Linked DNA regions of Homo sapiens: all the other regions are reported to be linked to region 1. Evidence: microRNA targets listed by miRTarBase, many of them from high-throughput screens and not tested one by one. Region 1 holds a microRNA gene; each other region holds the end of a gene's coding sequence.
What was found. Region 1 holds the annotated microRNA hsa-miR-3910 (AAAGGCAUAAAACCAAGACA, at 1,935-1,954, shown strand). A microRNA usually pairs through its seed, bases 2 to 8, with sites in the 3' UTR of a target mRNA and lowers its output. Matches are read on the target gene's strand: a 7mer-m8 pairs with bases 2 to 8, a 7mer-A1 pairs with bases 2 to 7 and ends in A, and an 8mer does both.

Region 1 (5,108 bases):
CAGAGGAATTGCCCAGTTTAATCCTTGAATTCTTCACTCACAAAATTGCAAAATATCACTGTCATTTTAAGCCGCTAAATTTTTAAGTAGAACAATCTCCTTGTCTTTACTGGCCTTCGCCTCCATCTCAACTCTAATTCCACAGCTTTGATCCTGTCATTTCCTGGACCGCTTCAACACTGAACTGTCCATAGGCTGCAAACACCTTTCTATCTGTTCTTCCTCTTACTTACTTCACCATGCCAGAATTTAATATTCAGCAAACCTCATCACCCTAAACTCCTGAAGTTTTCTCCAGTCTGTCAGCTGATTCTTGGCTTTGATTTACTTCTTTTCTATCCTGTTCAAGCCACATAATGTATCATATCAATACTCTCTATCATGTTAAACTTCTGGGATCAATCCCTGCTCCCAGCCTGCAAATTCATATCTCTGGATTAGTCTACTTATTCACCTCTTTCACTTCTACACATAGGAAGCTGGAAGTTACTTGAGTCTTTGTTCTTTGGTTTTCTGCATCAGGTCCCTACAATGACATTTAGAAGATAAGACAGCACTGTCTTGTTAAGTAGGAATAAAGTTTATCAGGTAATTGAAAGGAAACAAAGAGAACTCTAAGTATCATGGAAGTAACAAGTGCTGGAAGCAGCTACCACCCATAGAACCTGGAAAACAAAGGAAAGAAGCTGCACTTCTTAAAACTTAAAATCTCAGAGGAGGGGACCCCTTGAGTCTGGGGCCTAGACCTCTGAGGAGAGGTGTCTGCCCAGCTTATCTTTTAAATGCCATTTTAGGGACCTGATGCAGAAAACAAAAGAACAAATGCTGGCATTTCAAAGTGTGTGTGTGTGTGTGTGTGTGTGTGTGTGTGTGTGTCTGTGTCTGTGTTTTACAGGGGAGTGAGACTGGTTTGGGGAATGTTGGGAGAACATTCAGGAACAAACTACTTATGGTGGAACAAATTACACTCTCAGAATGAAAAAGTAAAACATTTTTTTCTTTCTACTCCAGGCTTCAGTCATCCCTTTAGTGCCTTCTATTGATAGAGCATAAATGTGTTTGCAGAGCTCCTGCCCCAGCCTCATATACTGAAGGTAGAAGGATGGGCTTGAAGCTGGGAGACAGTAGCCTAACAGATAGTATAGTAAATTTAAGTAAAATACTTGTCGACAAACTTTGGTTTTGAACCCAAGATGGATAATTCTAAAATTGTTTTGAATCATGTTAGATGAATTTAACCCATTTATAATTATTATGATAACTCATATGTGTTATCTATTTATTCAGTCTTATTTTATGTTTTCTGTTTATGTTGCTTTATTTTAAAATTTTCTTTCTTTTCTTTCACATCTTTTGATATGTTTCCTTTTAAAAATCATATTATTCAGTAACTTGTAAATTAGATAGCTAATTCTATTATACTGTGTTACCTACAAATTAGAATAGCAATGATAACTACTTATTTAAAATTATATTTCTTTTCAATGGCAATAATAAAATTGGATAGGATGCTACTCCCACCAAAGAACAGAGGGCTCTGTTTTAAAGAAATTATGCTAAAACATAATTGGAAAATAATATGTATTCTAGTCTGGGAGTCTGTGTACCATGTCTTTCTCATTTTGACTCTTGGAGAGCCCAGTGTCAATGCCAGTTCCTTTTCTGCTTACCCAAAGAAAGCCCACCAGTCTATTTGCCCTGTCATGCCCTGCCCTGCCCAGAGCATCCAGCAAGAATTCCCATTCAGTGGTGAGACTGATGGAAAACAGACTAATGTTCTCAACAGCAGAGGAAACCACACCAGCCACCCTGGTCTTTTGATTTAACTAGAACTGAGCAACTGAAGACCAATTGGCACATAAGGAGAAACTTCTGTGATCAATCCTTTTTTTGTTGCTTGTCTTGGTTTTATGCCTTTTATGTGCCTTGATATAAAAGGCATAAAACCAAGACAAGCAACAGAAAAACTGACAGCAAAAGAAGAAGAGAATCCGAAGACATTAAAAATCCCCTTAATTGATGAATTAAAAGAGATTTTGGAAACATATCTAGATAACAAGAGCAAGATGTTACAAAAATGTGACAAAAAAACTGAGATCTTTAATAAAGAAAAATTAGGATTTAAAAAAAATTTCAATAGAAGGCCTGGAAAATCCAATGAGCTCCTTAGAGTCAGAGCAAAAAGAAGGAAAATATTAGAGAAGCAAAGGAAGTATAGAAAACCAATTCATCAGGCTTTTCAGAAAGAGTGAACAGAGAAAATTAAGAGAACAAAATTATATTTATTTATTTATTTTTTGTTGAGATGGAGTTTTGCTCCTGTCACCCAGGCTGGAGTGCAATGGCGTGATATTGGCTCACTGCAACCTCCGCCTCCTGGGTTCAAGGGATTCTCCTGTCTCAGCCTCCTGAGTAGCTGGGATCACAGGCACCTGCCACCATGCCCAGCTAATTTTTGTATTTTTAGTAGAGACAGGTTTTGCCATGTTGGCCAGGCTGGTCTCGAACTCCTGCCCTCAAGTGATCCACCTATCTCGACCTCCCAAAGTGTTGGGATTACAGGCATAAGCCGCTACTCCTGGCCCAAAATTATATTTCTTAAAAAATTAAAGGAAATTCCCAGGGCTGAATGATATGAATCCCCTATTGAAAGGGCATGCTGATTCCTGAGTGCAGTGAATGAGAAATGGCCCCAACTGATATACATGCTCATTAAATTTATGAGCACCAAAGGAAAAAAGAGGTTTCTGGAAACTCCCAGAGAGAAGTTAAAAAAAAAAAAAGAAAGACCCTTTTTAAAGGGATAAAGGCCAGATTGACATGAAACTCTTAAGACGAGGTAAAATATTCAATTTTTTTTTTTTTTTGAGACGGAGTCTTGCTCTGTTGCCCAGGCTGAAGTGCAATGGCGCAATCTTGGCTTACTGCAACCTCCGCTTCCTGGGTTCAAGCAATTCTCCTGCCTCAGCCTCCCAAGTAACTGGGATTACAGGTGCACACCGCCATGCCCGGCTAATTTTTTTGTATTTTAGTAGAGACGGGGTTTCACCGTGTTGCCTAGGCTGGTCTCAAACTCCTGAGCTCAGGCAGTCCACCCGCCTCGGCCTCCCAAAGTGCTAGGATTACAGGCATGTAATCTCTTTCTCCTCCTCCTCCTCCTCTTCCTCCCCCTCCTCTTCTTCCTCCCCCTCCTCTTCCTCCTCCTCCGCCTCTTCCTCCTCTGCCTCTTCCTTCTCCTCCTCCCCTCCTCTGCTACTTCTTCTTCTTCTCCTCTTTTTCTTCTTTTTCTCCTTCTTCTTCTTCTTCTTCTTCTTCTTCTTCTTCTTCTTCTTCTTCTTCTTCTTCTTCTTCTTCTTCTTCTCCTTCTCCTTCTCCTTCTTCTTCTTCTTTTCTTCTTCTTCTTCTCTCTCTCTCTCTCATTATTTCCCTACAGTTTCCACTCAAACAACTTTAGAGAGCACTTTTATTTCTCAAACCCAGGCTTTCATCTCATTTAACAGATTATCTGTTGAACATTTTACCAAATATCCTCTGGAATTAGTGACCAAATGATCAAGTAACATTAAAGAGTGTTGCTTTACTATTCTGTTGCCCAGAGTTTTCATTTGGGTAATATTTTTTTAGTGAGCTTGCCTGCCTTTAGAGAGTCTCATTCATCTTTTTCTAGTCTGACAACCTGTGGTAAATTTAGTCTTTAATATGTTTATGGGATGAAATAGACTGCATATTTAAGAGTTTCAAAATAAAAATAGCATAGAACCCTAAGGATATAGCTATAGCTATTAGGGAATAAAGAAGTATGGTATCTATCCTTGATAAACTCTGTCTCTGACTTCTTTGTGGAAAGTGTAATATATTTTGGGAGCATATGGCTCCATGCTAATGCTTATTAGCAAATGCCATAGCTTATATTGTTCTATGCCTTATAACCATTTCAAATGGCATTTGAAAGATACAATTTTAAAACAGCATTGGATGATATTCTTCAAGAGAAGGCACAATAAATTCACATAATAAAGCCACTCCTGCGGCTCTTATTGATGTGTGAGAGAGATTGGGGAAGGGAAGTCCTTGAGGGACTTCAGCCTTAGATAAGCCCTGTCATCAGATCTCATTCTAATAGAATGTAAGCACACTTATAACTGTTGACTTAAAAGGACTGAGTGGACCAGCAATGAACAAGAATGATGAGATTGGAAAACATAGAGCAGGATCACACTAGAATAGAAAAGAGCATCAGGAAAAAGTTGGAGAAAGATTCCTCTACCTCTATTTTTATTTTAAACTTTTGTGGAAGTGAGTGATTTACAGGGATTATTTGTTAGTACTTGAGAATGCCTGAGTGTTCTGGGATATGGTCTGACGCTCCTGGCCAGTTGAAATGAATGTGTCAACCTTAATGAAATCTCCATAGCAGTCTCTACTTGTTACAGTAACCTGTTCTGCCTATGTACACAGAGAGCAATTAGCCTGTATCAGACAGACACAAAAAGGTGGCGCAGCCCTGAGATGGAGAGGGTGTGCCAGGATAATGGCAAATGTAGGTGAAACCCTCAGACTAATTCTACAATAGGTCACTTGTTCCATCACTTTGTCCATTGGAAAGGAAGTGACTCTCAAGCTACATCTCATCAGGAAACCTGGAAGCTTCTTGACAAGAAGCCTTTGACTGACCTTCAGATGGTCATCTTGGCTTTTCACTATCCAGCACAGCAACCCCTTTCTACCTACTCTCATTGAAGCTCAGAATGGCTGCAATTTCTTGTTTGCCACACAGAAGCCTCAAGAGAGGTCCACTGACTCCCTGCATTCCAGATCTTCTCCTCCCATTCACACTTGTGGCAGCACCATCTTCTCATGACAGTCAGGGTCAATTAGTCCATCATGCAGTTAGTCTTTTCACCACGTGTGGGCTCACAGGTAAGAGCAGCCCAAAGTGCCCATGTGGCATTTGCAGCTGCAGGTGCAGCAGAATCCTTACTTGGCTCCTGGACAGAAGCACTGCCCAATGGGAACCAGGATTTCTAATACAGCAAACCTACGTTTACAGAAGTGGGAGGATTCTTTTTCTCTCCCCTCCCCTTTCTTCCCCTCCCCTCCCTTCCCCT
Region 2 (5,087 bases), not on the chromosome of region 1:
TAGAGTGATTTATCTAAGGTCTCAAAGTGAATTTGCCGTTGGGTCAAGACTAATTATAATAACAACAACTACTGACGTTTATATGGGCCCGGCATTGTGCTGAACACTTTCATGGATTTTGTAACAGAATCCCTAGATCAGCACTGTCCAGTAACTCTGCAGGGATGGGAGTGTCCGGTACAGGGGCCACGAGCCACATACGGCTGTTGTGCATTTGACACACAGCTCATGTGACTGAGGAACTGAATTGTTCATTTTATTTGATTGTAGTCTGTTTAAACAAGCACACAGAGCTAGTAGTGGTTCCTCTGCTGGGCAGCTTGACTTAGAGCAGACCCATGGGTGCGGGTGCGGTGATGGATAAAATCACATCTGTGAAGCATGGTGGGACACTCCATAATACCCCTCAAGAGACAGAGTGGACGTTCCCCGAGTTCTTCCTGTTCTCAGCAGTCGGCCCCATTGGCCCCAGGGAAGGGTGTCCTGGCCCCCCACTGTCTTCCTCAGTTGGGCAGCTCCGCCGCGTCCTCTTCTTCTTGGCCTGGCTGACTTCTGCTGTCTCTCCTCAGATTTCTACCACTCCAAACGCCGGCTGATCTTCTCCAAGAGGAAGCCCTAATCCGCCCACAGGAAGCCTGCAGTCCTGGAAGCGCGAGGGCCTCAAAGGCCCGCTCTACATCTTCTGCCTTAGTCTCAGTTTGTGTGTCTTAATTATTATTTGTGTTTTAATTTAAACACCTCCTCATGTACATACCCTGGCCGCCCCCTGCCCCCCAGCCTCTGGCATTAGAATTATTTAAACAAAAACTAGGCGGTTGAATGAGAGGTTCCTAAGAGTGCTGGGCATTTTTATTTTATGAAATACTATTTAAAGCCTCCTCATCCCGTGTTCTCCTTTTCCTCTCTCCCGGAGGTTGGGTGGGCCGGCTTCATGCCAGCTACTTCCTCCTCCCCACTTGTCCGCTGGGTGGTACCCTCTGGAGGGGTGTGGCTCCTTCCCATCGCTGTCACAGGCGGTTATGAAATTCACCCCCTTTCCTGGACACTCAGACCTGAATTCTTTTTCATTTGAGAAGTAAACAGATGGCACTTTGAAGGGGCCTCACCGAGTGGGGGCATCATCAAAAACTTTGGAGTCCCCTCACCTCCTCTAAGGTTGGGCAGGGTGACCCTGAAGTGAGCACAGCCTAGGGCTGAGCTGGGGACCTGGTACCCTCCTGGCTCTTGATACCCCCCTCTGTCTTGTGAAGGCAGGGGGAAGGTGGGGTCCTGGAGCAGACCACCCCGCCTGCCCTCATGGCCCCTCTGACCTGCACTGGGGAGCCCGTCTCAGTGTTGAGCCTTTTCCCTCTTTGGCTCCCCTGTACCTTTTGAGGAGCCCCAGCTACCCTTTTTCTCCAGCTGGGCTCTGCAATTCCCCTCTGCTGCTGTCCCTCCCCCTTGTCCTTTCCCTTCAGTACCCTCTCAGCTCCAGGTGGCTCTGAGGTGCCTGTCCCACCCCCACCCCCAGCTCAATGGACTGGAAGGGGAAGGGACACACAAGAAGAAGGGCACCCTAGTTCTACCTCAGGCAGCTCAAGCAGCGACCGCCCCCTCCTCTAGCTGTGGGGGTGAGGGTCCCATGTGGTGGCACAGGCCCCCTTGAGTGGGGTTATCTCTGTGTTAGGGGTATATGATGGGGGAGTAGATCTTTCTAGGAGGGAGACACTGGCCCCTCAAATCGTCCAGCGACCTTCCTCATCCACCCCATCCCTCCCCAGTTCATTGCACTTTGATTAGCAGCGGAACAAGGAGTCAGACATTTTAAGATGGTGGCAGTAGAGGCTATGGACAGGGCATGCCACGTGGGCTCATATGGGGCTGGGAGTAGTTGTCTTTCCTGGCACTAACGTTGAGCCCCTGGAGGCACTGAAGTGCTTAGTGTACTTGGAGTATTGGGGTCTGACCCCAAACACCTTCCAGCTCCTGTAACATACTGGCCTGGACTGTTTTCTCTCGGCTCCCCATGTGTCCTGGTTCCCGTTTCTCCACCTAGACTGTAAACCTCTCGAGGGCAGGGACCACACCCTGTACTGTTCTGTGTCTTTCACAGCTCCTCCCACAATGCTGAATATACAGCAGGTGCTCAATAAATGATTCTTAGTGACTTTACTTGTAATATTACTATTGTGGTTATTATACCTTATAAGAACAAATAAATGGGCTTTTGGGAAGGATTTCATAATTAAATAATTTTAAAAATTAAGCATTTAAATTTAGAGAATGCAGAAAACTTAGCAAACAGAAAGACTGCTGCAAAAAACAACAGCAAAACAAAAACTACTGTCACACCTCTGCAAAGATCACCAATGTCAATATTTTGGTTTGTTGTGTAATCTTTTTGTAAAGAATATATTATAGCTTAACATCATTATTCATCAGATAAATGCAAATTAAGATACCACAATAAGATACCACCATACACTTACCAGAATGATTAAAAAAGACTGACAGTGCCAAGCATTGGCAAGGTTATGGAGCAACTGGATCTCTTATTTAAAAAAACTGTTTGGGCCGGGCGCAGTGGCTCACACCTAGAATCCCAGTGCTTCGGGAGGCTGAGGCAGGAGATCACTTGAGGCCAAGGGTTCAAGACCAGCCTGGCCAACATGGTGAAATCTCTACTAAAAATACAAAAATTAGCTGGGCATGGTGGTGCACGCTTGTAATCCCAGCTACTTGGAAGGCTGAGGTGGGAGGATCACTTGAACCCAGGAGGCAGAGGTTGCAGTCAGCTGAGATCATACCACTGTACTCCAGCCTCTTCCAGGGTGACAGTGAGATTCATCTCAAATAAATACATAAATAAAAAACTGTTTGGTAATATCTTCTAAAGATGCCTACCTTCATGGCTACCTCATGACCCAGTAATTCTATTCCTGGACATGTTCTCGAGAGAAATGAGTTCATATTTCCACTGAAAAAGGCATAAGAATGTTCTACACAGTGGCTCACACCTATAATCCCAGCACTTTGGGAGGCTAAGGCAGGAGGACGGCTTGAGCCCAAGAGTGTGAGACCAGTTTGGGCAACATAGCGAGACTCTTATCTCTACAAAAAAAAAAAAAAAAAAAATAGCCAGGCGTGGTGGAGCGTGCCTGTAGTCCCAGCTACCTGGGAGGCTGAGGTGGGAGGATCACTTGAGGAGCTTGGGAAGTCGAGGCTGCAGTGAGCCCTGACTGCACCACTGCACTCCAGCCTGGGCAACAGAGTGAGACCTTGTCTGTCTCCCTCAAAAAGAAAAAAACCAAAAGAATGCTTCCAGCAGCATTATTATTAACAGACCCAAGCTAGAAATAACTGAAATGTCCATAACAGAATAGATATGCAAATTGTGGTATATTTATATAGTGGAAAGTTATCCAACATTACAAAAAACAAGGTGCTGTTGCATGCATCTTCTGGTTGTCTATTCATAATTAACCACCCCAAGACTGAGTGGCTTAAAACAATAATCATTTATTTGCTCCCAACACTGCAATTTGGCCCAGAACTACTTTTCAAATGTGGAATAATTCTCTACTGCACAGGGCAGAGCTTTCTACTAGAATCATAGAGTTCTGAAACGAGACTCTCCCCGCCAGAGGGGACTTCCAGGGACTTCACAACTGTCTACTTATCCACAGATAAAAGTCCAGGACCAGGGAATACACTGGGGCGTGTGACCCAAGTGCTTGTCCCATAGCCTGCACCTGTTTCAGAGCCCTCTCTTGCTCCGGCCGCTGCTTAAACATGGCAGCTTACTAAATCATCCAATAAATGGGCTGGAGTGATCTTTAGTACACTGCCTCTGAAACCCAAATTAAAAAGTGGTAAGAGGGGGGTGGGGGCCTGGGGGAGGGATAGCATTAGGAGAAATACCTAATGTAAATGATGAGTTGATGGGTGCAGCAAACCAACATGGCACATGTATACCTATGTATCAAACCTGCACATTGTGCTCATGTACCCTAGAACTTAAAGTATAATTTAAAAAAAAGAAAAAAAAATGGTAAGAGGTGCAAGATATACTAAGTTGTCCTTTACCACAGAGGGAATGACCCAGCATGCCCCAGTTTATTTGACCACTTAAAACTTTAATGATTTGATAGATCTCTAAATTGTTGTAGGGAAAGTGGATGTGAACCACTTTTGATCCCCTTTCCTGATACGGATTGAAAAGAACACACTTGTCATAGTATTGGCTTCTTACCATCAGAGGCTGTGTAGACTATTCTAGTAAGGATACGGTATCTGATCATGGCTGTGATTAGGGCTGCCCCGTGGATAATCATCAATCACCATGCTTCAGTGGGTTTTTACAGGGGCAGTATGTGGTGGATCCTATGGAGATACTATAGGGACCACCTCAGTATCCTTTAAGTCTCTGAGGGAATCACTAATTTCTACCCACCTGGGATATGCTATTGCTTCTGATTTACTACCTTGACCAGCGGGATAATTTTAGAGACTTCTACTTGGTCTTTCTTTCTATAATGGCTCTTATTCTACAGATGACAGAGAACGTGAGAATGTGGCAGAATGTGAGAGTTCTACTATCTGTGAAGCTATGCATCCCAATTTGTACTCAAGGGCTAGGAAATAACCATAGAGTAGGTCCACAGACTCACTGGGAGATGAGCTTGGCTAGGACTCTATTACCATCTGGCCTTCTATGTCCCCCTCTCTGAAAGGAGGCTATAATGGTGTTTTGGGTCATCTAGAAGCAGTGAAAGCTCAAACCCTTTATCTAACAGACCTCAAATGATCTGGTTATTCCCAGTTCCACACTGTACAGCTATTCCGGTAAATAGCCAGAGGGTGCTTTCGGGAAGAATCAAGGAAACGTTTATTTTATATGTTTATAGTGGCATTACGGATCTTTCTCTTCCATCAGTGCGTCCTGGGTCAGAACTGGCTCAAAGCTGGAAACTAGGTAAGAGATTGCGATTTTCTGTCTCGGCAGCTGACATCAGCCTCTGCTCACTCACCTTGATCTTTTGTGGTTAAGTCAAGCAAGACTCTCATTAAATGCTCACCTCTCTTGCCCTAAGGACACCACTGCTGCA
Region 3 (5,108 bases), not on the chromosome of region 1:
AAATAACTTGCCCAAGATGCTTGTGTGTAGAAGAACCAGGATTCAAATCTATGCTATAATACTCTTAAAGCCAATGTACTTGACCATTATGCTACTTAAGCTCCAGTTTGTAAGAAATATTTTGAATATTTTATGGATAGCAGCTCAAAAATGGAACCAGTGAAGTCTGTTATTTTATCGTATTATTTAAATATATGTTAAAATATTGTCTATATGCTATAAAGAAATGCCATTTATATTTAAGGATATTGACTTTCTGAGTTTTACTCCCCAGGGGGCATAGATATGGACGCATTTCAGGAGCGTGAGGAAGGCCATGCTGGGCCTGATGACAACGAAGAGGTCATGCGAGCACTGCTCATTCACGAGAAAAAGACTTCCTCTGCCATGGCTGGTTCAGTGGGGGCAGCTGCTCCAGTGACCGCTGCCAATGGCAGTGACTCAGAAAGCGAGACCAGTGAGTCAGATGATGATTCTCCACCCCGTCCGGCAGCTGTGGCTGTGCATAAACGAGAAGAGGATGAAGAGGAAGATGACGAGTTTGAAGAAGTAGCAGATGACCCCATTGTCATGGTGGCTGGCCGTCCGTTCTCCTACAGTGAAGTGAGCCAACGGCCAGAGCTAGTGGCCCAGATGACACCAGAAGAAAAGGAAGCATATATAGCAATGGGACAACGCATGTTTGAGGACCTCTTTGAGTGAGCTTTCCCTAATTCTTTCTCCTTTCTCTAATGCTCAGTTCAAAAAGGAATGTCTCATCTTTGAAGAAAAGTATTTAAGTGGCTTTCTGCCCCTCTTGATGTAAGCAACTGTCCATCCTTGTGCAAAGATTGATGGTAGAGAGTTTGACTTTTATGCCAGAAACTTTCCCAGCAAGGTAGGGTGCTGAGAATCCTACCCTTCCTTGCTGTCACTACAGTATTAATATTTTACTGTATTTTCTTTTCTTTTTTTTTTTTTTTTGGAGATGAAGTCTCACTCTTGTACCCCAGGCTGGAGTGCAATGGCGTGATCTCGGCTCACTGCAACCTCTGCCTCCTGGGTTCAAGCGATTCTCCTGCCTCAGCCTCCCGAGTAGCTGGGATTACAGGTGCCTGCCACCATGCCTGGCTAATTTTTGTATTTTTAGTAGAGGCAGGGTTTCACCATGTTAGCCAGGATGATCTCGATCTCCTGACCTCATGATCCACCCGCCTCGGCCTCCCAAAGTGCTGTATTTTCTTATCTGATTTTTTTCTTGCCTTATTAAGACATAATTTTCTCCCTTCTGAAATGAGTGAGGGAAGTTCATAAGGTAAATCCTTCCCATCCATCTGTTTACTACAATAGGTTACAATAATTCACTGATCACATCCATTTTATCTGTTCTAGCCAGGCATTCCAAACAATTTCTTATACTGCTGCCCACCAAAGCAGCTTGCCAACAGTCAAATCACTGATTGGGGGAAAAAATCCTGAAATTTTGCTTAGAATTTGAGCATTTCCTCAAAATTGAGATGGATCAATATGTAAGGGGAGGTGGGAGCGTGTGTGGAAGGGGGAGAGATATACTTGAGTCTTATGATTAATGTCTAAACCAGAATTTGTGTCTTTAGAACTGACCAGACTGGTAGATTTTATTGTATTGCTTAATGTCTTTTGGTTTGGATTTAGGATGATAGAAAACAGAAGTATAATTGGTAAACCCTTAGGAAGAAATTAGAAAAACATGGACGTAAGACAAGAAGTCTCTGTGAAGGGTTGAAGAGTGACAAGCATTGGTAACAGTGCCTTAGAACTGTGTCAGTTAGTCTGATTTGGAAATCCTTTATGTAAAGCTGAGACTGGTCCTGGTTTTGTTCCCTTTGGGTACAGACCTCTTGTCAGTGCTATAAATTGTTTAATGAGGCCATTCCAGCAGAAATCAACAGAATAATTGATTACTCTTCTCTCTCTCTGTCACTCTCCCTCTTTCTAAACATCATTGAAGGCTGTCTCTCTTTTAATTTTTGTCAGACACAGTATTTTAGGGTGCATCCAGTATACCATTGAGCATTGTAACCTCAGGAAACAGTTTATTTTGGGTTCTGATATGTAGCATGGTATTTTCCCTAAGGCAGAACTTTAAAAATAAAGAACTTTCACACAAGGGTCTGTAACAATTGTATATCTTACAATATTTTTCCTTGCATTGTAATTTTTAAGTATTTATCATTTTATAGTACACATGTAAAGAATATATGAGCCTTGTATGGAGTGATGTTTCATTTACCTGGGTTGTGTTAATGACTGAATGTTGACAATAAATCTGTTTTATACTGACTGAAGTTTGTTCATTTTAAGTTCTGTAACATCTTGGGGCATATTAAAATGAATATTCTTCCCATTAAAAAAATGTTAAAGACTTTTTTATTAGTCATATTTCAAATGATAGATGCATATGGGATCTAAACTTTTTGTGCAATAAGATGCCTTTGTACCTTGTATACGTAAAGTATTCAACTTTTACACTTGATCTTAGCCAAAAGACCAAGAAGCAATGCTCTTCAGCTTTTAAACATTGTTTTTTAAACTTTTATAGTTCTAGAAGTTAATTTAAATAAAATGGTAATCAGATGTTAATTTTTAAAATGTAGTTAATTTTTTAAACTATTTTTTGTAAGTGTGTTCATGTATATGTAGAATTCGTGTTATGGGAAAATGTCACAAGTGAATATGGAGGTAAGAATAAAGGTATTCATTGCAGCAGTATTTGAAATAGAATAGAAAGATAGATATACTCACTAAATCTGTATTTAGTCCTAAGTACTCAGGAGGCCAAGGCAGGAAGATTGTTTGAGCCAGGAGTTCAAGGCTAGCCTGGGTAATGTAATGAGATCCCATCCCTCCCCAAAAAAGAATGTATTGAGAGGAAAAGATATCCATAATGTGTTAAATATAGGATTCAGTTTTTCTAGGGGTGTGTGTGTGTGAAGAAGAAAGTAGCTAACATATAGTGAACTGTGTGCCAGACACTATTTTAAGTGCTTTATATATGTTAACTCATTCAATCTTTTATAATCTGTGAGGTAGGTATACATATATAAATGTATATATATAAATTAGGGATGAGAATTACAGTGATCTTAATATATTATTATGAAAAAGATATTTTCATTTTGAAAAAGAATCAAACACATTTAATGAAAGAAATAGTAGAGTGTCAAAAGCAAGGTCTTTTTAGGTTGATGCTAGGATTTTTGGGTGAGTAGACCCTCAGTTAAGTAAAATGAAAAAATCCAGAGTTTATCATTTTCTCGGATAAACGTCTCTAAATTTATACTCAAAATCAATGGGAAGATATAATTTAATAGGTAACTACCTCCCTTTCAGTGACATCTAATAAGACTCAATAGAATTTATATTACTTTATCAGATAGGTTTGTCTCTTGAGTGGCACAATAATCTGGTGAGGAGAGACAGTCAGTGACAGAAGGACCAAAAATGGGAGCCCTGCCGATTAGCCTCTGAAGCTCTAGTAAGGGCAGGCTCACACCCAAGGTTGGTAGATACATGTAGTCACTGTGTTTCTTGACCCCAGGAAAACTAGAGTCACCACCACACACAGCCCATAAGTGATGATGGAGGAACTTGGTTTCCCTGAATGCGGTTGACTATATTCGTGTATCTCAAGTGTCAGCTGAACAAGTGTCCCAACTTTCCCACTGTCCTTTAAGATTTAAATAGAACTTTTTATCCTAACATGTTGGACTACTTCTTCTAGTATCATTTCTTTTGGGAGATGACAGTTCTTTTTTGCAGGTGGTAGGGGACCGGGGAGAGTAGGCAGGGAGCTTGTATCCTCTGGCTTCGCCTTTCTGCTTCCCTGGTTTTCCATCTGTCCTCTACACCACCTGTCCTTTACTCCCCCTAGTACCATCAACACAAGTTTGTGTAGCAGATCTTCCCTGAAGTTTTTACAGTAGTGAGCAAAGGGAGCGGGGCAATGAGGGGGATTTTTGTTTCTATGTTCCTCTTATTTTTAGTTGACACAATAATTGTACATATTTGTGGGATGCAGAGTGATTCTTTATCTCTTCCAACTTTTAGGCTCAGGGGTATATGACGTGCAGGTTTTCTGTATAGGTAAATTGCGTGTCATGGAGTTTAGTGTACAGATTATTTTGCCACCCAGGTAATAAGCATTGTATCAGATAGGTAGTTTTTCAGTCCTCACCCTCCTCCCACCTTCCACCCTCAAGAAGGCCCTCTTTGTGTCCATGTGTACTCAGTGTTTAGTTACCACTTATAAGTGAGAACATGGGGTGTTTGGTCTTCTATTCTTGCATTAATTTGCCTGGGATAATGGCCTCCAGCTCCATCCATATTGCTGCAAAAGACAGGATTTCATTCTTTTTTATGACTGTGTGGTGTTCCATGGTGTATATGTACCACATTTTCTTTATCCAGTCCACCAGTGATGGGCATGTGTTTTTATGGCAGAATGACTTACATTTCCTTGGGTATATACCCAGTAATGGGATTGCTGAGTTAAATGGTAGCTCTATTTGGGGTGTGTGTGTGGTTTTTTTTTTTTTTTTTTGAAACAGTCTCACTCTTGCCCAGGCTGGAGTGCAGTGGCATGATCTCAGCTCACTCCGCCTCTCAGGTTCAAGCAATTCTCGTGCCTCAGCCTCCTGAGTAGCTGGGATTACAAGTGTGTGCCCCCACACCTGGCTACTTTCTGTTTTGTTTTTTTTTTTTTTTGAGACAGAATTTCGTTCTTGTCGCCCAGGCTGGAGTGCAATGGCGCGATCTCGGCTCACTGCAACCTCCACCTCCCAGGTTCAAGCGATTCTTCTGCCTCAGCCTCCCAAGTAGCTGGGATTACAGGTGCGCACCACCACGCTCAGCTAATTTTTATATTTTTAGTAGAGAAGGGGTTTTGCCATGTTGGCCAGGCTAGCCTCAAACTCCTGACCACAGGTGATCCACCCGCCTTGGCCTCCCAAAGTGCTGGGATTACAGGTGTGAGCCACCATGCCTGGCCAATTTCTGTATTTTTAGTAGAGACAGGGTTTCACCTTGTTGGCCTGGCTGGTCTCCGACCTCAGGTGATCTGCCTGTCTCGGCCTCCCAAAGTGTGCTGG
Region 4 (5,108 bases), not on the chromosome of region 1:
CAAACTTTCCCAGAATAATGAAGAGGAGGGAATTATTCTAAACTCACTCCACAAGCCAGCATTACCATGACACAAGCACCAGATAAGGACACACACATGCAAAAGAAAACTACAGGCCAATATTCCTGATGAACATAAATGCAAAACTCCTCAACAAAATACTAGCCAACCAAATCCAAAAGTACATCAAAAAGATTGTTTACCATGACCAAGTGGAATTCATTCTAGGGATGCAAGAATGGGTTCAACATACACAAAACAATAAACATGATAAATCAACAGAATGAAGAACAAAAAATGTGATTATCTCCATAGGTGGAGAAAAAGCCTCTGGTAACATTCAATATCCCCTCATGATGAAAACTCTTAACAAATTACACATAATAATAGAAAGAATGGGCCGGCCGCGGTGGCTTACACCTGTAATCCCAGCACTTTGGGAGGCCGAGGCGGGCGGATCACGAGGTCAGGAGATCAAGATCATCCTGGCTAACATGGTGAAAACCCATCTCTACTAAAAATACAAAAAATTAGCCAGGCATGGTGGTGGGCACCTGTAGTTCCAGCTACTTGGGAGGCTGAGGCAGGAGAATGGTGTGAACCCAGAAGGCGGAGCTTGCAGTGAGCTGAGATCATGCCACTGCACTCCAGCTGGGCGACAGAGCGAGACTCCATCTCAAAAAAAAAATTAAAAAAAATTATAATAATAATAGAAAGAACGTACCTCAACATAATAAAGGTAATAAGTAACATACCCACAGCTAACATCATGCATAATGGGAAAGTGCTGAAAGCTTTCTCTCTATAATCTGAAACAAAACAAGTATGCCCACTTTCACACCTTTTAACAAAGTACAAAAGGTCTGAGACAGAGTAATCAGGCAAGACAAAGAAATAAAGGGCATGCAGATCAGGAAGCATGAAGTCAAATTATCCCTGTATGCACATGACAGGATCAAATATATAGAAAACCCTAAACTCCAAAAGTGGCACCAAAAAAATCTTAGGACTGATAAATTCACTGAACTTGCAGGATATAAAATCAACATGCAAAAATCAGCAGCATTTCTATACACCAACAATGAATTAGCTGAAAAAGAAATCAAGAAAGCCATCCCATTTACAATACTTCAACAAAAATAAAATAAGAATACATGGAAAACTATATAACACTGATGAAGTAAATCAAAGAGGACACACATAAAAAAGGAAAAACATCCCATGGTCATGGATTAGAATGGTTACTATAAAAATGAACATACTTTCCTGTAAGAGATAGCTTATGAAAAAAAATGAACATACTACCTCAAGTGATCTACAGATTCAATGCACTCTTAACAAAATACCAATGACATTTTTCACAGAAATAGAAATAGTAATCCTAAAATTCATGATATCACAGAAGATACTGAATATCCAAAGCAATCCTAAGCAAAAAGAACAAAATGGGAGTCATCACACTACCTGACCTTGAAATATACTACAAAGTGATGGTAACCAAAACAGCATGGTTCAGGTATTTTTTAAAAACCACACAAACCAATGGAACAAAACAGAGAGCCCAGGAATAAATCCCATTTACAGCCAACTGATTTCTAACAAAGGCACAAAGAACATTCACTGGGAAAAGGACAGTCTCTTCAATAAATGGTGCTGGGACACTGGATATTCATATGCAGAAGAATGAAAGTAGACTCATCTCTCACCATACACAAAAATCAACTCAAAACACCAAGTATGCTGGCTCATACCTGTAATCTTAGCTACTCAGAAGGCTGAGTTGTGGCTCACTTGAGTCCAGGAGTTCAGGACCAAGCTGGGCAATGTGGTGAGACTATGTCTCTAAAAAATAATTAAAAAGCAAAAACAAAAATTGGGAATGTATTTTTAGGGCAATTTGAATCTATGCTCTCAGGATAATCAACTCAAAATGGTTTGAAAGCTTAAATGTAAGAGCAAAAACTATGAAACTACAGAAGAAAACATAGGGGAAATGCTTCTGGATATTGGTCTGGGCAAGGATTTTATGAATACCTGAAAATCAAGGTAACAAAAGCACAAATAAACAAAGGGATTATATTAAACTAAAAAACTTCTGCACAGCAAAGGAAACAACAGAATGAAGAGACAACTAGTAGAGTGGGATAAAATATTTGCAAACTATTCATCTGAAAGGGATTAATATCCAGAATATAAAAGGAACTCAATAGCAAAAAAAATAAAAATAAAAAATCTGATTTTAAAATGGGTAAATAAGGTGAATAGACATCCCTCAAAAGGAGACATACAAATGGCCAAGTATATGAAAAAATGCTCAACATCACTAATCAGGGAAATGCAAATCAAAACCACAATGAGATATAATTTCACCTCAGTTAGGATGGCTATTACCAAAGATAAAAAATAAAAAATGCTGCTGAGAACATGGAAAAGGGGGAACTCTTATATATGGCTGGTAGGAATGCTAATTAGTATAGCCATATGGAAAACAGTATGAATGTTCCTCAAAAATCTAAAACTATAGCCAGGCACGGTGGTGTGTGCCTGTAGTCCCAGCTACTCAGGAGGCTGAGGTGCAGGACTGCTTGAGCCCAGGAGTCTGAGACCAGCCTGAATAACACAGCAAGACCCCATTTTAAAAAATGAAAAATAAACAAAAGTTAAAAATACAACTACCATATGATCCACTGGTAATGATCTATACCACTACTGGGCATATATGCAAAAACAAATATATCTATACGTCAAAGAGAGATCTACACTCCTATGTTTATTGAAGCACTATTCATAATAGCTAAGAAATCAGTCTAAGTGTCCATTATCAGATGAATGAAGAAAGAAAACATGGCATATATACACAATGGAATACTACTCAGCCATGAAAAATAAACCTGTCATTCACAGCAACATGAATGAGCTTGAAAGACATTAAGTGAAATAAGCTAGACACAGAAAGAGAAATACTCCATGTTTCTACTCATATGCAAGCATAAAAGGTTGAGAATGGTGGTAACCAGAGGCTGGGAAGGACAGCAGAGAGGCAGATAGAGATTGGTTAACAAATACAAAATTACAGCAAGTAAGATTCCATTTGAATAAGTTGTAGTGTTCTGTGGCACTGCAGAATGAGTACAATTGGCAATAATACATTTTATATTTTCAAATAGCTAGAAAAGCAGACTGTGAATGTTTCTAAACACAAAGAAATGATAAATGATTGAGATGGATATGCTAATTACCCTGATTTGATCATTACTCTTAGCACACATGTATTGAAATATCACACCAAACCCCATAAACATTGTCAATTAAAAACAATAAAAGAAACAAAAAGAATACCAAAAGAGAAATTCCAAAATATTCTGATTAAACATATTAATTACTACGACTGGACTCAATCCATGGTGACAACTACCTGCATATACATATGCAGGTTCACCTGTTAAAATTCCAGTCACTTTATGTATAGTCAGCCTTCACACAATCTTCTGTAAGACTGAAAAATGAGATTCCTTCTCTGTGTTTATTTTCTGAGTTTATCATAATCTTTTAACTTACTTTAGCTACATGTCTTATTTCATTTTTGGTTCCAAATTGACCTCTAGAAAATTGTTGAGGTGAATTTTGAACTATTTACTCTCTCTAAAGAGCAGTAAAAAAGCTGAGAAACCACAATCAGAGGGAAGAATTAGGACTCCCTGGATTACATTATGTACAAACAGCTACAATATCATCTCCATCCTACAGAAAAATAAAGAAGAAATTGACAAGTAGATCCAGATCAAGAAAAAAGTATGGTACTGGGTGGTTAAAGACACACGGAGAAACAATTTTTTTAAAAAAGTCAAAGCGTCTGAAGTGTGCAGTAAAATGTGCCCATTCATATGTACATCCTTTATCTCCTTAAATGTAAAAGTATTTCATAACTCAAGCCTCCATCTTTCTCATAAAGATATATGCTTCTGCTCCTCAAGAGTGGAGACAATGCTGTGGAACAAAGCAGGCTTTCACAAAATGTTTTCAAACAAACCGTTTGTCTACAGCACTGGACAGCAGTGAATGTATACACAGGGAAAATAAAGGGGATGAGGCCCTTTTGTTTCTGAAACATTTCCCTCTCCCAAATAAAATAAGGAGGGGATGACAAATTGCCATGGGCTTGTCAGGGAAGTCTGAAAGAAGCTGTGCTTCCATTTCTTTCTCTTCCCTATGACTCCTCCTCCTTTGTTTGAATGTCCCTGAGATAACATTTCACTGTAAACTAATAAGAAAGATGTGGCTGAAGGTTTTCCTAAGTGCACAGTAACCACTGGGTCTCTTTCATGGGTGAATTATCAGATGTAGAATAAGACTCTTGGCTGTGTCAATTTCTAACATAATTGTTTAGATGACAAATGATGATCTAAAACAGGTTTTCCCACAGAGATGATACTTATGGAGTTTCTCTTCAGTATGAATGACCAGATGGTAAGATGTTTCCTCTCACCACAGATTTTCTTCAGTGGTTATATTAAAAAACTATTTCGCTAATAGGAATTCTTGGATGTTGACTGAAGTGTACGTAAAAAGTCTTTCCACATCTGTTACAATGGTAGGGTTTCTTCCACTATGAATCCGTTGATGTCGAGTGAGGAGGAATGAGCGGCAATTGAAGGCGTTTCCATATTCACTGCACTCACTGGGCTACTCTCAGTGTGGATGATGGAGTGTTGAATGAGATCTGTGCTCTCACAAGAAACGTTCCCACTCTGGATGGGTTCGTGGGACTTCTCTGCAGTGTGAATCCGCTGGTGCCTTGTGAGGGGTGACCTGCGGTTGAAGGCCTTCCCGCACTCCACGCATTCATAGGGCTTCTCTCCAGTGTGGATGCTAAAGTGTCGAATCAGGTTTGTGGTCCGACAAAAGGCTTTCCCACATTGGATGCATACATACGGCTTCTCTCCAGTATGAATCCACTGGTGCCTTGTGAGCCCTGACATGCGGGTAAAAGCCTTTCCACACTGTAAACACTCATAGGGCTTCTCTCCAGTGTGGATGTTGAAGTGTCGAATGAGGTCTTTTCGAATGCTAAAGGCTTTCCCACATTCTTTGCACTCAAAAGGCTTTTC
Region 5 (5,108 bases), not on the chromosome of region 1:
GCAAGGAATGTGGGAAAACCTTTAGTCATCGTTCTCAGTTGATTCAACATCAGACTGTTCATACTGGCAGGAAACTCTATGAATGTAAGGAATGTGGGAAGGCTTTTAATCAAGGCTCAACTCTTATACGACATCAGAGAATTCATACCGGTGAGAAACCCTATGAGTGCAAAGTATGTGGAAAGGCCTTTAGAGTGAGCTCACAACTCAAGCAACATCAGAGAATTCACACTGGAGAGAAACCCTACCAATGTAAGGTATGTGGTAGGGCCTTCAAACGGGTCTCACATCTTACTGTACATTACAGAATTCATACAGGTGAAAAGCCATATGAATGTAAGGAATGTGGGAAGGCTTTTAGTCATTGCTCACAATTGATTCATCATCAGGTTATTCACACTGAGAAAAAGCCCTATGAATATAAGGAATGTGAGAAGACCTTGAGTCATGATTCAACTACCGTTCAACCTCAGAGAATGCATAATAGAGAAACACATGTGAATATAATAAATGTAGAAAAGCCTTCCATCAGCAGTTACCCCTTACTAATCATCAGAGAATTTATGTTGGCAAGCAACCATATGAATGGAAGTAATGGGGAAAGCCCATTAGCCTAGGCTAATTGTGACTGTGACTTACTTCTCCCTCTTGGAGAAAGACTTGAAGAATGTAATGCCAGTGACAATGCCTTCATTCAGAGGTAAGCCTTTATCCTAAGTCTGAAAATTCATATCAAAGAAAATTTTATGGATGTAAATTGTTCAGATCATAATTGTCAAAAATGCTGGGAAAGGTTGGGAGAAATTTTATTTCTAACACATTCCAGAACCACATTTTCTAACCACAGTGTAGTAATTTTATCAAGAGCAAAAGTTATAGTTTTCTTACAAGTTAAAAAAACAGCCAGATTATCATTTGCTTAACAAAGAAATCATGCAATTACCATAAATGGTAATGAAAAGAATGAATTGAGAGTTTAACATGCCAAGAGATGTGAAATGTGGCCAAAGAGATGTGAGGGTAAGGGGAAAGCCAAAGCTACACTGGAGGAATTTTTATAGCCTTTGAATGCATGCATATACATGAAAATCTGAAAGATAAACTCATATGCACTAAACATGCTATTCAAGTCTACCAAACATCCAGGCAGTGAAAGAAGAAAGTAACAGAAAATGATGAAATAAAGAGACCATCTTACAATAATCTCAGTTTTTGTTTCTTTCTGATCCAGAAATAATCTAAATTTAGGAGAATATTTCTTAATTTCCACATTGTTACATTGTTTTATGTGACTGGCACAGACAACCATTGGTTGTCATCCCAGCAGCCATACCCAATTCCCCTTGTTATTGGCAGCATCTGTGTCTTGCCTTGGACTCTGAGAATATCAGATGCTAATTTTCCAGTCTCCTGTGCAGCACAGTATGGCCAGTATCTCCCAGTGTTGCTCAGTGGAATCTGCCGGGGCTTCTGGGAAAGATTTTCCTCATTCAGAAGAGACAGGTTTATCATGAAGACTTCCTCCTCTCTCACTTCCTGCTTTTAAACATTTTTATATAAGAACATGATGCCTGAAGCTGCTGCAGCTGTCTTGGAACCAAGAAGAGAAAAAAGTGGACCTCAGAGAAGCTGACCCAGAGCCTGAGAAGACTCAGCTACTAGGCCAATTCTGGAACTGCCTTTTTGATGCCTTGTTATCTGAGAAAAATAAAACTTGATTGCTCAGTTAGTTTTAGTTGGATATTTTGTAAATTCGCAGCCAAAAGCATCCTAAGTGATATAATATCTAATTTAATTTTATTATGGTTGGTAAATGTGGCCTGAAGTTATCTACTTTTTGAATTTTACTCTTTTTTTGGAGATGGAGTCTCGCTCTGTCACCAGGCTGCAGTGCAGTGGCACAACCTCTGCCTCCCGGGTTCAAGCGATTCTCCTGCCCCAGTCTCCCCAGTAGCTGGGACTACAGGTGCACGCTACCATGCCCAGCTAATTTTTGTGTTTTTAGTAGAGATGAGGTTTCACCATGTTGGCCAGGATGGTCTGGATTTCCTGACCTTTGTGATCCACCCGCCTCGGCCTCCCAGCACTTCCTATAAGTGCTGGGATTACAGGCATGAGCCGCTGTGCCACCCAGTTTGACTGTGTGTGTGTGTGTGTGTGTGGTTAAATACAAGATTGATTTCTGTATACCATGAACATTGAAAAAATATGTATTCTGCATTTTTGGATACAAGTTTCTAAATAAGTCCATTAAGCCACTAGATTGCAATAGTAAAAATCTCCATGTTTTCATATAATTTGGTATGCTGGATCAGAATTTCCTAAAAAAATGTTGCCAACACCTTGAGTTTCCAGACATTTACGCTTTTTAATTTATATTGTTTGACTTACAGGGACATACTACTAACCCTCTATTTATGAATTATACCTTTATCTTTACATAATATCCCATTTTGCCTAGTGCAGGGTATAAAAACCAAATCCAGCCCGCTACCTGCTTTATAAAGTCTGAGTGACACATTGCATTTATGGTCTACGACTGCTTTGGTTTCACTACAGCAGAGCTGAGTAGTTGCCACAGAGACTATATGGCCACAACACCTATATTTACTGTCTGGTTTTTTTGTTTTGTTTTTTGAGATGGCATCTCAAACTGGAGTGCAGTGGCACAGCCATGGCTCACTGAAGCCTCAACCTCCCATTCAAGCAGTCCTCCTACCTCAGCTTCCTGAACAGCTGGGACCACAGGCATGTGCCACCACGCTAGGCTAATTTTTAAAAAATTATTTTGTAGATACAGGGTTTTCTTATGTTGCCCAGGATGGTCTCAAACTCCTGGACTCAAGCAATTCTCCCACTTTGGCCTCACAAAGTCCTGGGATTACAGGTGTGAGCCAATGCACCTTGCCTTCTCTGTTTTTTAGTTAAGTTTGGGCCAGGCACTATGACTCCTGCCTGTAATTCCAACACTCAGAGGCTGAGGCAGGAGGATCACTTGATATCATGAATTCTAGACCAGCCTGGGCAACAAAGGGAGACCCTATCTCTACAAAGAAACAAAAAAGTTAGCCAGGTGTGGTGGCATGTGCCTGTAGTCCCAACTACTTGGGAGGCTGAGGTGAGAGGATTATTTGAGCCCAGGAGTTCAAGGTTGCAGTTGAGCTGTGATCATGCCATGTACTCCAGCCTGGGCAACGGAGCAACCCCTTGTCTCAATAAGTTTACTCTTATTGGAAGCAGATGACTTGCCATTGGCAAACTCATGTGCTATGAGCCAGAACCATAGATTTCTGAAGATCAATCTCCCCAGATTCTATTCTAAGCCTTCTACCCATATGGTAATTATGGCCCTCCTTGCGTTTGATGCTAAGAGCTATCACCTGGCTGCCATTATTCTGAGATCCTATCATTCCCATTGCAACTAGAGAGCCCAGTTCCTTAACAGCACCTCTTGCAGCCAGCCCTCGCCTAGGGGACAGCTACTATTGGCCATCTCCATGACGCTTGTTCTCCCTTGTATATCCACTTCTTTTGATCCCATCCTCATTTGTCATGGCAATTCTGCTATCTTCATTTTATTTAATGAGAACCAATGCTTTTTCCAAGCTTCAAAAACTGTCCCAGCATCCATTAGAAGCATCTTTTTCCCTTGCCAGTGTGTTAATCCTGTCATACAGTGACCCCATAGCAAAAAACTCTCCCCTATTCAACTTTGTATTCTACCTAATGATGCAGTAATCTCAGGATCTCCTCCCAGGTATACTCTTCTGGTTCTTGCTTGTACATGTTAGCCAGGTCCTACAGCTCCTTTGGTGTCTGAATCCATTTCTTACCACAGCAGTCCCAGAACTTCCCCAGTTTGGGACTGCTGAAATTTGACCCATTATTGACTTGGGGGAAAGATACTGTGGAAAGAAAGCATTGTTTTAAAGGGAGCATAGAGGGTATAGGGAAATCTGGGATTTGAGCAAGATGTGCAAATGCATATGCTAAGAAGTCTACATCCTGACTCAGAGTTGCCACTTCCTCCCCACTAAGTCTTTCCTCCTAAGACTGAAAGCAAAACAAGGGTGCCTACATTTATCACTTTCATTCAACACTGTCCTGGAGGTCACACAGCAATTGCAATAAGATGAGAAAAAAAAGAACAGCACAGACCAGAAATGAATACACTGTCTATTTGCACGTGACATGATTGCTTATGAAAAAAATCTTAAGGCCAGGCGCGGTGGCTCATGCCTGTAATCCCAGCACTTTGGGAGGCCGAGGTGGGCAGATCACGAGGTCAGGACATAGAGACCATCCTGGCTAACATAGTGAAACCCCGTCTCTACTAAAAATACAAAAAATTAGCTGGGCGTGGTGGCAGGCACCTGTAGTCCCAGCTACTCGGGAGGCTGAGGCAGGAGAATGGTGTGAACCCGGGAGGCGGAGCTTGCAGTGAGCCGAGATCGCGCCACTGCACTCCATCCTGGGTGACAGAGCAAGACTCCGTCTCAAAAAAAAAAAAAAGAAAAAAAAAAAATTTAAGAAATCTGTATGACAACTCCAAGAATAAGTGAAATGTTCAAGACAAGATGCAAGATAAATGTACAAAATGCTATTTTGATGTACAAGTAGCAAACAACTGGAAAAGTAAAAGACAAACGAATTTACATATTGTGAAAATGTCTATTAATAAACTTAAGAAAATACATTCAAGATCTCTATACAGAAAACTACAGGTATTTCTGAGAAAAATTAAAGGAGACAAATAGAACTTATGCTAAGGTTACAGACTGGAAGTCACTGCTGTTAAGTGTCAATTCTCTTCAAGTTTGTCTACAGACTTCATGCAATCTCAATTATAATACCGACAGGCTTTTTGGTAGGAACTGACAAGGTGACTCTGAACATTTATTAGAAAATGCAAATAAGCTAGAGTAGTGAGGCCAATTTTTATTTTATTTTATTTTTTAATCCAGAAAAGCATCACCAGGATTTTTTTTTTTTTTTTTAAGAGACAGGGTCTCATTCTGTCAACCTGGCTGGACTGCAATGGTGTGATCACAACTCACTGCAGCCTTGAACTCCTGGACTCAAGCAATCCTCCCACCTCAGCCTCCTGA

Region 2: miRTarBase lists CDKN1A as a target of hsa-miR-3910. Seed matches in the 3' UTR shown: 7mer-A1 at 684-690.
Region 3: the mRNA of GTF2E1 is a reported target of hsa-miR-3910. Seed matches in the 3' UTR shown: 7mer-A1 at 1,239-1,245 and 7mer-A1 at 1,768-1,774.
Region 4: miRTarBase lists ZNF460 as a target of hsa-miR-3910. The part of its 3' UTR that is shown has no 7-base or 8-base seed match.
Region 5: the mRNA of ZNF582 is a reported target of hsa-miR-3910. Seed matches in the 3' UTR shown: 7mer-m8 at 685-691 and 7mer-m8 at 1,687-1,693.

Annotation. Positions count from the first base shown.
Region 1 is chr9:91,633,123-91,638,230 of GRCh38, reverse strand. It overlaps MIR3910-2 (microRNA 3910-2), which reads left to right and starts at 1,886; the gene lies at 1,886-1,967. It overlaps MIR3910-1 (microRNA 3910-1), which reads right to left and starts at 1,980; the gene lies at 1,870-1,980.
Region 2 is chr6:36,685,182-36,690,268 of GRCh38, forward strand. It overlaps CDKN1A (cyclin dependent kinase inhibitor 1A), which reads left to right. Exons shown (of 3, transcript NM_000389.5): 3 at 570-2,151. The coding sequence ends at 619. Among named protein-coding and RNA genes, the nearest start is that of CDKN1A, 9.0 kb to the left of the region's middle. RefSeq lists a silencer at 2,596-2,675.
Region 3 is chr3:120,780,769-120,785,876 of GRCh38, forward strand. It overlaps GTF2E1 (general transcription factor IIE subunit 1), which reads left to right. Exons shown (of 5, transcript NM_005513.3): 5 at 275-2,301. The coding sequence ends at 702. Among named protein-coding and RNA genes, the nearest start is that of GTF2E1, 41 kb to the left of the region's middle. RefSeq lists an enhancer at 465-514.
Region 4 is chr19:57,291,706-57,296,813 of GRCh38, reverse strand. ZNF460 (zinc finger protein 460) reads right to left here. Exons shown (of 3, transcript NM_006635.4): 3 at 2,745-5,108. The coding sequence ends at 4,584. Among named protein-coding and RNA genes, the nearest start is that of ZNF460, 14 kb to the right of the region's middle.
Region 5 is chr19:56,379,372-56,384,479 of GRCh38, reverse strand. ZNF582 (zinc finger protein 582) reads left to right here. Exons shown (of 5, transcript NM_001320371.4): 5 at 1-1,729. The coding sequence ends at 617. It also overlaps the pseudogene ZNF542P. Among named protein-coding and RNA genes, the nearest start is that of ZNF582, 12 kb to the left of the region's middle. RefSeq lists an enhancer at 1-819.